Linked DNA regions of Homo sapiens. Each later gene encodes a partner of the first gene's protein in a complex. Each region holds a gene or a part of one and is shown on either strand. Other genes may lie near its edges. A codon is read from its position in the direction of its gene.

Region 1 (3,750 bases):
GAATGATTTCAGATATACAGAGTTAATAAAACATTAAAACTGGCCAGGCACGGTGGTTCATGCCTGCATTCCCACCAGCACTTTTGGAGGCCAATGTAGGAGGACCACTTGAGGCCAGGAGTTCAAGACCAGTCTGAGCAACACAGCGAGACCCTATCTCTATTTTTTTTTAAAGAAAAAAAAAAAACATTAAAATTACTTTTTTCCTGTTCGTGGCTACTAGAAAATTTAAATTACACCTGTAGTTCACCTTACATTTCTAATGGATGGCATGGTCTAATTCTACCCACCAGCTTGATACAGAGGATACAGGAACTTGAACACATAAGGAATGACTTTATTAAGTCCAGAAGGTGGGAAATTCTACAAGACAAATGATCTGATCTTGTAATACTTCAAAATGGGGTAGAACAGTTTAAGAGACATAAAAAGAAAGATGAAGGAAATGGAAAAAGCGTAGACTGCTATGCTGAGGTCCTGAGCACAACCAACTATAAAGCCACATTGGGGGAAAGAAGAACAGGGAAAACTGGAACATGGTAATAAGGAACTATTGTTATATTTTGCTGAGCATGATAATACTAGTATCTTACAAAAACAGACATCTGTTGGAACTACATTATCAAGTATTTATAGATGAAATGATAGATCTTGGATTTGCTTTAAAATAGTCCAGGGAAAAGATAAAATAAGAACAGCAGAATGTTGCTGATAGCTGTTAAAACTAAAAAAGAAAAAAATAGACCGAAAACCCATGTGGCAGCCCATAAAAATCCAACAAAAGAAAAAAAACTAAAAAAATAACAACAACCCTCTCCCAAAAAAACTGGGTACATGGAAGTTCACTGTATTAGTCTCTCTAACTTCTGGCTATGTTTGAGATTTCTAAATTAGGAAGTAAAATTAAAAAGCAAAAAGTACCTGGGCTAGATTACTTAGATGTCTGAGTCAATAATCATTAAGGAAAATGAAAAGCATATGATCAAGAATCCTGACACTATCTTAGCGTTAAAGCACACCTTTTCTTCACGGCACAAAGAGCTCAGCAACTTTGACAACAGGGAACATTTAGGGGTCCTTTATTGCTAATGAAGCCAATTATGAACTGAGAGGTATTCATTGCTGCTTTTGAAACTAGTGAATAGTGGGAACTACAGTTGATCCTTCAGGAACCCATCCAGTTCTGACTTAGAGTAGCTATCAAACAGCATTTATCAGATGTGAAGACTCTTTATCAAAATATTTCTTTCTCAGCCTGATTTGTTCGAATTAAAGAGCTGAGAAAAGTGGAACCCAGAGTGACACTGTTCACTTTTCATAAGGTGAGGATCTGAAACCATGGGCAGAGAAAATCCCTGTTATCAAACAAAGGAGTGTGTGAAACGTACAGAAGGCCTAATGTCCACAATGTGGGCCTCTGGATCTCTTACCTGTAGCCCAATATTCAGGTATAGGAAGCCAATCGAGCCCCTCTCACCCAGCTCATCCTGCTTCTCAGTCCCACCCATTTCCACGATACACAAGGACTCAGGCTGGGCTGGGAGAGCCTGCATGCTTAGAGGTTGCAAACAGTCCTGAGAGGGAGAGAAAAATCATAAAAACACAGAAAATGACAATTTTAGGAAAAAAACATACCCAGAGAAATCTAATTCTAGGATTGAAAAAGTACTTCCTTATGCACAGAAAAAACCCGGGGAGTGAGTTCTAAGAGAGTACTGAGTTATTAGTTACACCCAATTTCAGAATAAGCTTCGGGAAGATCATGCTTTCCTCCTTTTGTCAAAGAAGATAATGGCAAAGGTAATTAAGCAAAGCACACCTCCTGAAAAGTCACCTAGGGTCCTGCAGCAAGTCAAATTTATGCAGTCTTGGTTGTTAACTTAAAAAAAGGAGTTGAGGCTTAAGCCAAAGAAACATTTCTGTAGTCTCAGATCATATCCTTAAACCACAGCAGGAAACTCCTGAAACACACTGCAATGACAAGAGAAGCAGCAGGTATGGATTCTGGGTTCTAACCCAGCTGATCTCAGAGATAGACATCAGGAGTGGATCTCAGAGATAGACATCAGGAGCCAGATGCTCAGGTTCCAACCAGATGATCCTTGAAGCTCAGAGTGTCACTCACTGAGGGATCCAGGGAGATGATTCTGACAGTGTTGTCCACAAGCCCCACAGCCAGGAAGCGAGACCGCTGCTCTCCAGGGGGTACATTGGCCAGACTCATGCACACCACATCTGCTGACATCTCCTTCCGTTCTGTGTACTCATTCAGCTGTCCTGACTACAGGAGGAAAGACACAGCAAGGTCAAAACTACAGAGGGATGGGTCTAGATGCTCCAATTCACCCCAAAACCCTGGATCCAGAGAATGAAGGAGGGCTGTTGTATTTTGTTCTGCTTCCTCTCACTCCTCTTACTATAGTAAATGACAAGAATTTATCTACCTGAGTTCTCAAGACTGAAGTTAACAGGCTCACAGCAAGCAAAATGAGTATCTTCCATCAATAAGAGAATGAACAGACCTTTGACAAGGTCAATGTGCCACAAATTTTCTGAGCCAACTTTGTTCTCAGGAAATGGAGACATATAAAACTGTCTGTGTTTTACAAGAATATTCTGGGTGAAGGGAATTCAAATATGGTTAAAGACAGAGAAATCTCAACCAAAGGTACAGGCAGGCTACAAATTTGGCCACACTAGAGACCTCCTGAGAGCAAGAGAATTAAGTGTACTGAACATCCTTCCATATAGAAGTTTTCTGAAATGGATTCAGACTGCAGAAATTAAATCTATGCCAAATATTTGTTGGAAAAGTAGAGAGTGAAATGCAGGAGGAGCAAGTGTTTCACTGCTAAGAGGGGATTTCATAACTCTACCTAGAATTAGACATCAAATTACCCCTTTTCCCCATCTCTGTAAGGGACCAAACTGGTTTGTGAACACTGTCACTCCAGCTCGCTTTTTTTTTTTTTTTTTTTTTTTGAGACGGAGTCTTGCTCTGTCGCCAGGCTGGAGTGCAGTGGTGCAATCTCAGCTCACCGCAACCTCTGCCTCCCGGGTTCAAGCAATTCTCCTGCCTCAGCCTCCTGAGTAGCTAGGACTACAAGGTGCATGCCAACACGCCCAGCTAATTTTTGTATTTTTAGTAGAGACAGGATTTCACCATACTATCATCTAAATGACTAGACTACAATGCCCATCTTTCCCTCTGGTCCCTACAATAAGTCCCACAGTGAATGATAAAATAACATACAGGATCCATCTCGAAATAGACCAGCTCTCCTCCTGTCAGGGCAATCACCACTTGTCGCTGGTTCACTGCACACTTCACAATTGTTTTCTTTCCAGGGGTCTTCCACTCATTGACTCTCTTGTCTGCTCGTATGTGCCGAATGCCATCTGGATAGACCTAGAGTCAGTAACAGAAAGAAACCTGACTTTAACAATTTGATTCATCACTCAGAATGACCCTCACATCTATCAGATCTGTCACTAAAATCAGACCTGGGGCCACTGCATTTGAGGCACCAGTTGAATCAAAGACAAAAGAGTTAGTAGGCCTCAGGCAAGGTCAACTTTTAAATAGTTCATGTTTTGCAGTGTCCACTTCAAAGAAGTTCAAAGCTTATTAACAAAACACTTATAAAGATCTTTATTAGAGATGAAAGCTGCAGTGATGTGGCTCTGTAACAGAAAAATGGCAAATACAGAGAGGGATATTATGTGCCCAAATCATATGTTCCCTACCCC
Region 2 (3,750 bases), on another chromosome or scaffold:
TTTCATAAAATTATATATTACTTTAACACCCGAAGAAACAATCACCGTATTTTATCACAAGATTTTAAAAAACAGTTAAAAATACTGCAGTTTTCCCTTTACACATGGAATACATTCCAAGAACCCCAGTGAATGCCTAAAAACAGAGATAGTACCGCACCGACATACACTGTTTTTTCCTATACATACATACCTATGATAAAGTTTAATTTATAAATTAGGTACAGTTAAGAGATTAACAACAATAAAATAGGACAATTATAGCAATATACTGTAATAAAAGTTATATGAATGTGGTCTCAAAATACTGTAATAGTTTCAGACTGTGGTTAACCTATGGCAACTAAAACCACAGAAAAGAGGAAACTACCATAATGTCAAAAAGTGACAGATGTTTTTAAAACATGGCTACAAATTATTTAATAGTCTTTTTTCTTGAGTGTGGGCTGGACTTAATGACTTCCTTCTAATAGAAGAAAGTGGGCTGGGCATGGTGGCTCATGTTTGTAATACCATCACTTTGGGAGGCTGAGGCAGGAGGATCACTTGAGCCCAGGAATTTCAGACCAACCTAGGCAACACAGTGAGACCTCGACTCTAAAAAAAAAAACATTTTAAAATATATATTAACAGGGCATGGTGGTGCACCCATAGTACCAGCTACTCAAGAGGCTGAGGTGGGAAGATCGCTGAGGCAGCAGTGAGTTGAGTTCGCACCACTACACTCCAGTTTGGGCAACAGAGTCAGACTCTGTTTCCAAAACAAAACAAAACAAGACAAAAAAAACCCCATAAAGAATAAAGTGGAAGTGACAGTGTGTAATTTCAGAGACAGTCATAAAAAGCACTAAAGCTTTCTCTTTGCTCTCTTTGATCACTCACTGTGGGGAAAGCCAGCTGCCATGTGGGTAAGGACAGGCAAAGAGGTGAAGAACTGAGGCATCCTATCTACATCAAAGTGACTGATGTTGGAAGCAGATCATCCAGCAACAGTCAAGCCTGCAGATGACTGCAATCTCACGAGCGCCTAAGCCAGAACTACCTGACTAAACTGCTCCTGATTTCCTGACCATAAGGAACTATGTGATAATAAGTGTTTATTGCTTTAACCTGCTAAGTTTTGATTTGTTACATGGTAACAGATAAATTTAAAAAATGAAATGTGGTCGGGCGTGGTGGCTCACGCCTGTAATCTGAGCACTTTGGGAGGCCGAGGCAGGCGGATCACGAAGTCAAGAGATCAAGATCATCCTGGCCAACATGGTGAAACCCTGTCTCTAGTAAAAATACAAAAAAAATTAGCCAAGCATGGTGGCGCGTGCCTGTCGTTCCAGTTACTTGGGAGTCTGAGGCAGGAGAACCACTTGAACCTGAGAGGCAGAGGTTGCAGTGAGCCAAGATCAAGCCACTGCACTCCAGCCTGGTGACAGAGCGAGACTCCGTCTCAAAAAAAAAAAAATGACTTTATTGGCCAGGCACAGTGGCTCACACCTATAATCCCAACACTATGGGAGGCCAAGGCAGGTGGATCACCTGAGGTCAGGAGTTTGAGACCAACCTGGCCAATATGGTGAAACCCCATCTCTACTAAAAATACAAAAATCAGCCGGGCGTGGTGGTGGGTGCCTGTAATCCCAGCTACTAGGGAGGCTGAAACAGGAAAATCGCTTGAACCCAGGAGGCAGAGGTTGCAGTTGAGCTGAGATTACGACACTGCAGTCTGGCCTGGGTGACAGAGCAAGACACGCCCGGCTAATTTTTTGAGCTAGTATGGTATCCTAGAAAGAAATGGCTTAAGGTTAATAGGACAACTGGGTTCTGGTCCTGTCTGTGTTAACTCCCACTGTGGTCCTGGACCTAACATCTTTTCTTGGAGTCAATTTCCTAATGATAAGATCAGGTTGAATTTCTGATTTCCAAAATTATTTTCTGAACTTAAGTTTAACATGATATGTCCAAAAGTGTTCTGAGATCAGGTATGTTGGGGAATTTCTGGGTTTAATGAAGTTAAACAAGATTCGTTAAAGACTTTTCACATCCATGGCCAGACGAGGTGGCTCACGCCTGTAATCCCAGCACTTTGGGAGGCCAAGGAAAGCGGATCACTTGAGGTCAGGAATCTGAGACCAGCCTGGGCAAGAAGGTTAAACCCCGCCTCAACTAAAAATACAAAAATTAGCCAGGCGTGGTGGTGGATGCCTGTAATCCCAGCTACTCAGGAGGCCAAGGCAGGAGAATTGCTTGAACCCAGGAGGCGGAGGTTACAGTGAATGGAGACCACGCCACCGTACTCCAGCCTGGGTGACACAGCCAGACTCCCATCGCAAAAAAAAAAAAAAAAAAAAAAGGACTTTTCACATCCTTTGAAGTGCTAATGAGTGGTCTATATATTGAGAGGAGGGGTACTGGTATGTAGTAGGCAGATTTTCCAAAACTGTTCTGGAACCAACCTCTTGTAAAGGTTTCCAGTGATTGTCTATCTTGATAACCATATATGGCAAGACCTCCAGTACAAAAGAAATAACTGCTTCAATTAAGAATGAGAGAATAATAGTACTTACATCAACTGCAGCATCCTCATCATCTGAATCTTGTAGACCAAGAGCTGCTTTTTGTAACTTCTTCCTCTCATTAGCCAAAGCTTGTTCTGTTTCATCAAACTTGAATCCCTTACCAGAGAACCCACTACTCTTTTTAATTATTTTCCCCTCCTTTCAAAAAAAGAAAACGAAGTTAATCTCATAGTAAAAACTTTAATGTTTAGGAATTCATACTAATTAAATATTTTTCAAGGTGGTGTATGTCAATGTAATAAAAACACTTCATCTAGCATGTAAGATAAACTAAGAGCTCTACATAGACACCACAAAATACTAAGTTCAAGAATAAGATAGGATTTTAGCTTTCACTCATTTTTCCCTCTAGAGAGAAATAAAAATAGTCGTAGCAAAATTTTCAAGTGTTAAATAAAAGATTTCCAAGAATTAAATAATCAAGGTTTAGTCACATTAATGATTTCTAGAAGAGTAACATGGGTTAAAAACTCACAGCTTTCTGCTGATCTTTGAAATCACTCCACAGTTTCTCTAAATCAGGAGGTACTGCAGTCCCTGACAATTCAAGAGCTTTAATTATGTCACCAGCATAGCGAGCTTGATCCTCTGTGATAAAAGTATAAGCATAACCCTAATGCATGATGAAAAAGTACAATTATTAGACACTAACAAGATGGATCCTACTTAGATCATAAGATAAAATCTGATCCACCTAATAAATCCTCGAGATTGACAACATTAACTAAAGAATTTTAAAAGCCACGAAAGAGTCTTACTAAATTACTTAATGGTTCAAAGTGAAATATCCAAGTTTAATTTTTATTTTTTGTTGTTTTTTATTTTTTTGAGATGGAGTCTCACTCTGTTGCCCAGGCTGGAGTGCAGTGGCGCAGTTTTGGCTCATTGCAACCTCTGCCTCCCGGGTTCAAGTGATTCTCCTGCCTCAGCCTCCCGAGTAACTGGGATTATAGGCGCCTGCCACTATGCCCGGCTAATTTTTGTATTTTCACTAGAGACATGGTTTCACCATGTCGGCCAGGCTGGTCTCAAATTCCTGACCTCAGGTGATCCGCCCGCCTTGGCCTCCCAAAGTGCTGGGATTACAGGCACGAGCCACTGTGCCCGGCCCAAGTTTAATATTTTAAAATAACACAAGCAAACTAGAAAATTTCTAATTTCTTTACACAGAGGTAGA
Region 3 (3,750 bases), on another chromosome or scaffold:
GGACTAAAGTGATCCTCCTAACTTGGACTCCCAAAGTGCTGAGATTACAGGTGTGGGCCACCACGCCCAGCCGGATGTCATTTCTGAATAAGAATAACCACAGAGACATGAATGAGAGGGCTCTCCAAATTGCTGGTCTTGACAAAGATTTGCTTCCCTTGCATTCTTCCCCTTGATGCAAAATAACTGCCTTTTATTGGACTACACCCAGTTTGACTCACAGAACTTGAAGAAATTATAACCTAGATGACTAGATGAACACAGTAATCTCCATAGACCATAGGAGATTGCAGTGGATGGCAAAGTGTTACTAAACAAAAGGAGGAAAGGTCAGATGGAAAGCTGTACACTTACGTCCTTCTCCTGGATGGTGCACTCCTTACAATAATAGGCATCAGAGACCCCAGGTCCTCCACAGATCACACAGCGCCCCTGGTAAGATCCATAGTTACACTCATCACATATGCGCACCAGAGTGCAGGGACGCACATAGGAGTCACAAATCACACACTTGCCATCACCTGTAAGGAAGAGAATGGAGTCATGCTCACAAGTTCTTCAGTCCTCTGCTATCTCCTGCCATGGGGAAATATACTAGTCTCCTGGGAAATACACTAGTCTCCTTTTGACAGTGACTTTAGGGCCCTCCTCTTGGCATCACAAAACTTGGTTTCCCCAGTGTCCATCTCAAGCCCCTCAACACATACAAAAGTTTACCAATTAACATATGTGAAGAGCTTAGAAAAGCACCTCGGAGATGATAAGCCTGTATAATTGCTGGCAAAGTGCTGTGTGTTGGGGAGGGGTCATGCTACTCTGGCGATTCTTCCCGTTGAAAACTAGAGAGATACAGCGTTAAATGTGCAAGCGGCAGTGGGGAGTTAGAGGGGCCTTTGGCTAAAGTGCAGCATTCAGTGTTCACATACTTCCAGGCACATCTACTCAAAGCCCTCTTTGTGGCACTTTTGCTGGTTCCACAGAAAACTGGGAGTGGGAAGGGTGGGTTGTTGGGACGGTGTGTTCCACTCACATTTTTCACACAGTCTTCCGATGGCTGCAAGATGAAAGATGGTAAAAAGTACAATTAGAATAAAGGTTTTGAGAAAGAGGAGAAGTACATCCTCGAGCTGGGGGTAGGGACATGAGTAAGGACTGCAGTGAGTGAGACCTGCGGATAGCCATTTTATCATTACAAATTTCCATATGAACCAAACCTACATCCAAGCACCCTCCTGAATCTCCTCCAACGCCCTGGGCAAGCTCAGAGTTTCTCTGGACCTGGTTCAGACCCCACCCCCCGATACCTGCCTGGGGCTCCCAGCACGCGCACCCCCGCCCTCTTCTCATCAGAGGCCACAAACCTGCGCGCTCCTACAACACCCCGCGCCTGAGAGGCGGGAAACGTGGCGCCTGCGAGGCAAGCCCCTAAGGAAGAGACGGGAACCCCCGACCCCCCAGCTCCTAATACCACCCCTGCCCAGACAGCCAGGGGTAGGGCGCAGTCTCACCAACACCAGCCTGCTTGCGGCAAAAGATCAAATCAGGATGATGTTTAGCCATAGCTCCTAACTAAGCCGGCCACCGGAAGCTTCGGGAACTTCCGTCCGACCTTTAACCCCCATTGTTCCTGCCTCCACGTCGCTGTGATTGGTTCTCTAAGCTTCCGTCAGTTTACAATCCTTGCACCAGGCCCGTCTTGCTCTCGCGCGAGTTTTTGTCGCTGCTGGGCGGCCAGGTCCTGGCAGGTGCATGAAACTCTTAAAAACTCTCCCAGATTTGGATGGCGGAGATAACTAAAATTTGTTCTTGGGTAAAACATCTTTGTGCTTGGTATCTATTTCTGCAAGTGTCTTTGGGCAGTCCGATTTCCTCTTGCGTGTCTGTTCGTTGCACGTGAGCTCCGCCCATTGCGTTCACAGGGTTCTGGCGCCTCTAGGGAGGCCTCGCCTTCACCGTGACGCCCCACTCTTCCGGGCACGCCCCTGCCCAAAGGCTTTAAAGGCGCCGTGTGGGACGTCACTTTAATGCGACCTCATCTTTGTCAGTGCACAAAATGGCGCCCTACAGCCTACTGGTGACTCGGCTGCAGGTGAGCGAGCTCAGGGACCTCTGGGTTCACGGGGGCGGGGTGCCTCCTACTGTGCCGGCGGCTGTGGGCGAGGCAGGGCGAGGCGGGCCCAACCTGGGGCCAACTTCTCGTGTACCTGTCCCGGTTGTGGGCCCGGCACCCGTGCCCGCTTCTCTGGTGCCCTAGGTCAAGGCGTCCCCGGCACAGTCAGCTTTCCTGGCCCTGTCCCTGCCTCGCAAGAAGCGTGGGCCCAAGCAGCGGCGGCCGGGTGAAGAGCGGAGGCACCTCTTTCTTCTTTTTGAGGACAGCATTGCCTGCTCCCGTGGGGTGTGTTTCCATTCCTCAAGGTGAGGACAAGGTGACTAGGGGGCGCGGTCGTTGTTGAGTCTTCTAGGCCCAGTTCCTGAGGCCTCACTTCCCATCTCTTAGCAACAGAGGCATGACAGCATCTACGGTTGCCAGGCCTGGAGTCTGGAGAAGAAACTAGGACCCTGTACCACCTTTTGAGGACCCTGCGGAACGTGGAATGTCGGGGAGGGGGGCGGTCTTCTGGGCCCATACGTAGTAAATAATATAATAATAGTCTCTCACCTTTGCACAAGATTTGAGGCCTGTTTTAATTCTTCATAATATTATTTGATTCCTGTAATCGTAGGAATGAGGTGGTTTTTCTCATTTGATAGATGATAAAGCTGGTAGAAAGTAGGTGAAAGTTCTGATTCTCAAGAGTGTCACCGAAGTGCTGTGGCAGAAGCATGGGCCCTACCACCACTCAGTTCTTGTTTATGTCAGCCTGCCCTCACAGAACTTTATGAACCACGGTGCAATTATTTCTGTTTGTCAGAATGCAGTACGAATATTTTGAGCCTCACAATAAGTTGCTTGTCAAATATGGGAGGATAAGGAGACTCCAGTTTGACCTTGACTCCCCTGTTAGGAGCTATCTAGAAAGCTGACTGACTGCCAGATGATTTTTTCACTTCTAACTTGACAGCCCTGGGAAGGTGTTATACTCAGAGGTTCAATGTCAAATGTGTACTTTGTTAATAAAAATCAAGCAAGCATCTGTAGACATTCTCTGTCAACCTTTCACATTTAACTTTGTGAATTCCTTTTGGATCAAGTGGCGCAACTTTGATAATAGAATTTTACGAGTTGTTATGCGTTGTACTCTCAGGAAGCTTGTGGTACTTGAACTTATTTTTCATCACATTGCTTAAATTTAAACTTGAACTTATTTTTCATCACATTGCTTAAATTGAAACCATATGGTTTAAAGTAAAATCATCATTTATCTGAAAGAAAATATTTCTGATCTCAATTCCGGGCTAAGGGAAAGGATTTGCACCTAATTATCTCTTTACATCTTTTTTTTTTTTTTTTTTTTTTTTTTTTTTTTTTGAGACAGTCTTGCTCTGTCACCCAGGCTGGAGTGCAATGGCGCAATCTTGGCTGACTGCAACTCTGCCTCCTGGGTTCAAGTGACTCTCCTGCCCTCAGCTTCCCGAGTAGCTGGGATTACAGGTGTGCACCACCATGCTTGGCTAATTTTTGTATTTTTAGTAGAGACGGGGTTTCACCCTGTTGACCAGGCTGGTCACAAACTCCTGACCTCAAGTAATCGGCCTGCCTTGGCCTCCCAAAGTCCTGGGATTACAGGTGTGAGCCACCACACCTGGCCT

What was found.
Region 2: SF3B3 (region 1) and DDX46 share a complex: the UniProt entries of both Homo sapiens proteins name them as parts of the 17S U2 SnRNP complex.
Region 3: the proteins of SF3B3 (region 1) and PHF5A are in contact, whole or in part, in a crystal structure (PDB 7B91), measured with the Homo sapiens proteins. Residues at the interface, in NP_036558.3 of Homo sapiens: Gly85, Arg86, Gln104, Glu105, Thr106, Phe107, Gly108, Lys109, Ser110, Leu140, Ile154, Ser155, Ser156, Pro157, Glu159, Ser1162; in NP_116147.1 of Homo sapiens: Gln14 (codon at 1,521), Ala15 (codon at 1,518), Gly16 (codon at 1,515), Val17 (codon at 1,512), Arg44 (codon at 468), Asp47 (codon at 459), Glu79 (codon at 363), Asp81 (codon at 357), Arg82, Asp83.

Annotation. Positions count from the first base shown.
Region 1 is NC_000016.10:70,554,710-70,558,459, reverse strand, and holds part of SF3B3 (splicing factor 3B subunit 3), read right to left. Parts: intron 3,410-3,750; coding exon 3,254-3,409; intron 2,282-3,253; coding exon 2,126-2,281; intron 1,575-2,125; coding exon 1,431-1,574; intron 1-1,430. UniProt on the Homo sapiens protein: Component of the 17S U2 SnRNP complex of the spliceosome, a large ribonucleoprotein complex that removes introns from transcribed pre-mRNAs.
Region 2 is NC_000005.10:134,810,657-134,814,406, reverse strand, and holds part of DDX46 (probable ATP-dependent RNA helicase DDX46), read right to left. Parts: intron 3,187-3,750; coding exon 3,049-3,186; intron 2,712-3,048; coding exon 2,562-2,711; intron 1-2,561. UniProt on the Homo sapiens protein: Component of the 17S U2 SnRNP complex of the spliceosome, a large ribonucleoprotein complex that removes introns from transcribed pre-mRNAs.
Region 3 is NC_000022.11:41,467,094-41,470,843, forward strand, and holds the start of PHF5A (PHD finger-like domain-containing protein 5A), read right to left. Parts: upstream 1,600-3,750; 5' UTR 1,561-1,599; coding exon 1,509-1,560; intron 1,055-1,508; coding exon 1,031-1,054; intron 522-1,030; coding exon 355-521; intron 1-354. Other genes in the region: ACO2 (aconitate hydratase, mitochondrial precursor), read left to right, coding at 2,054-2,089.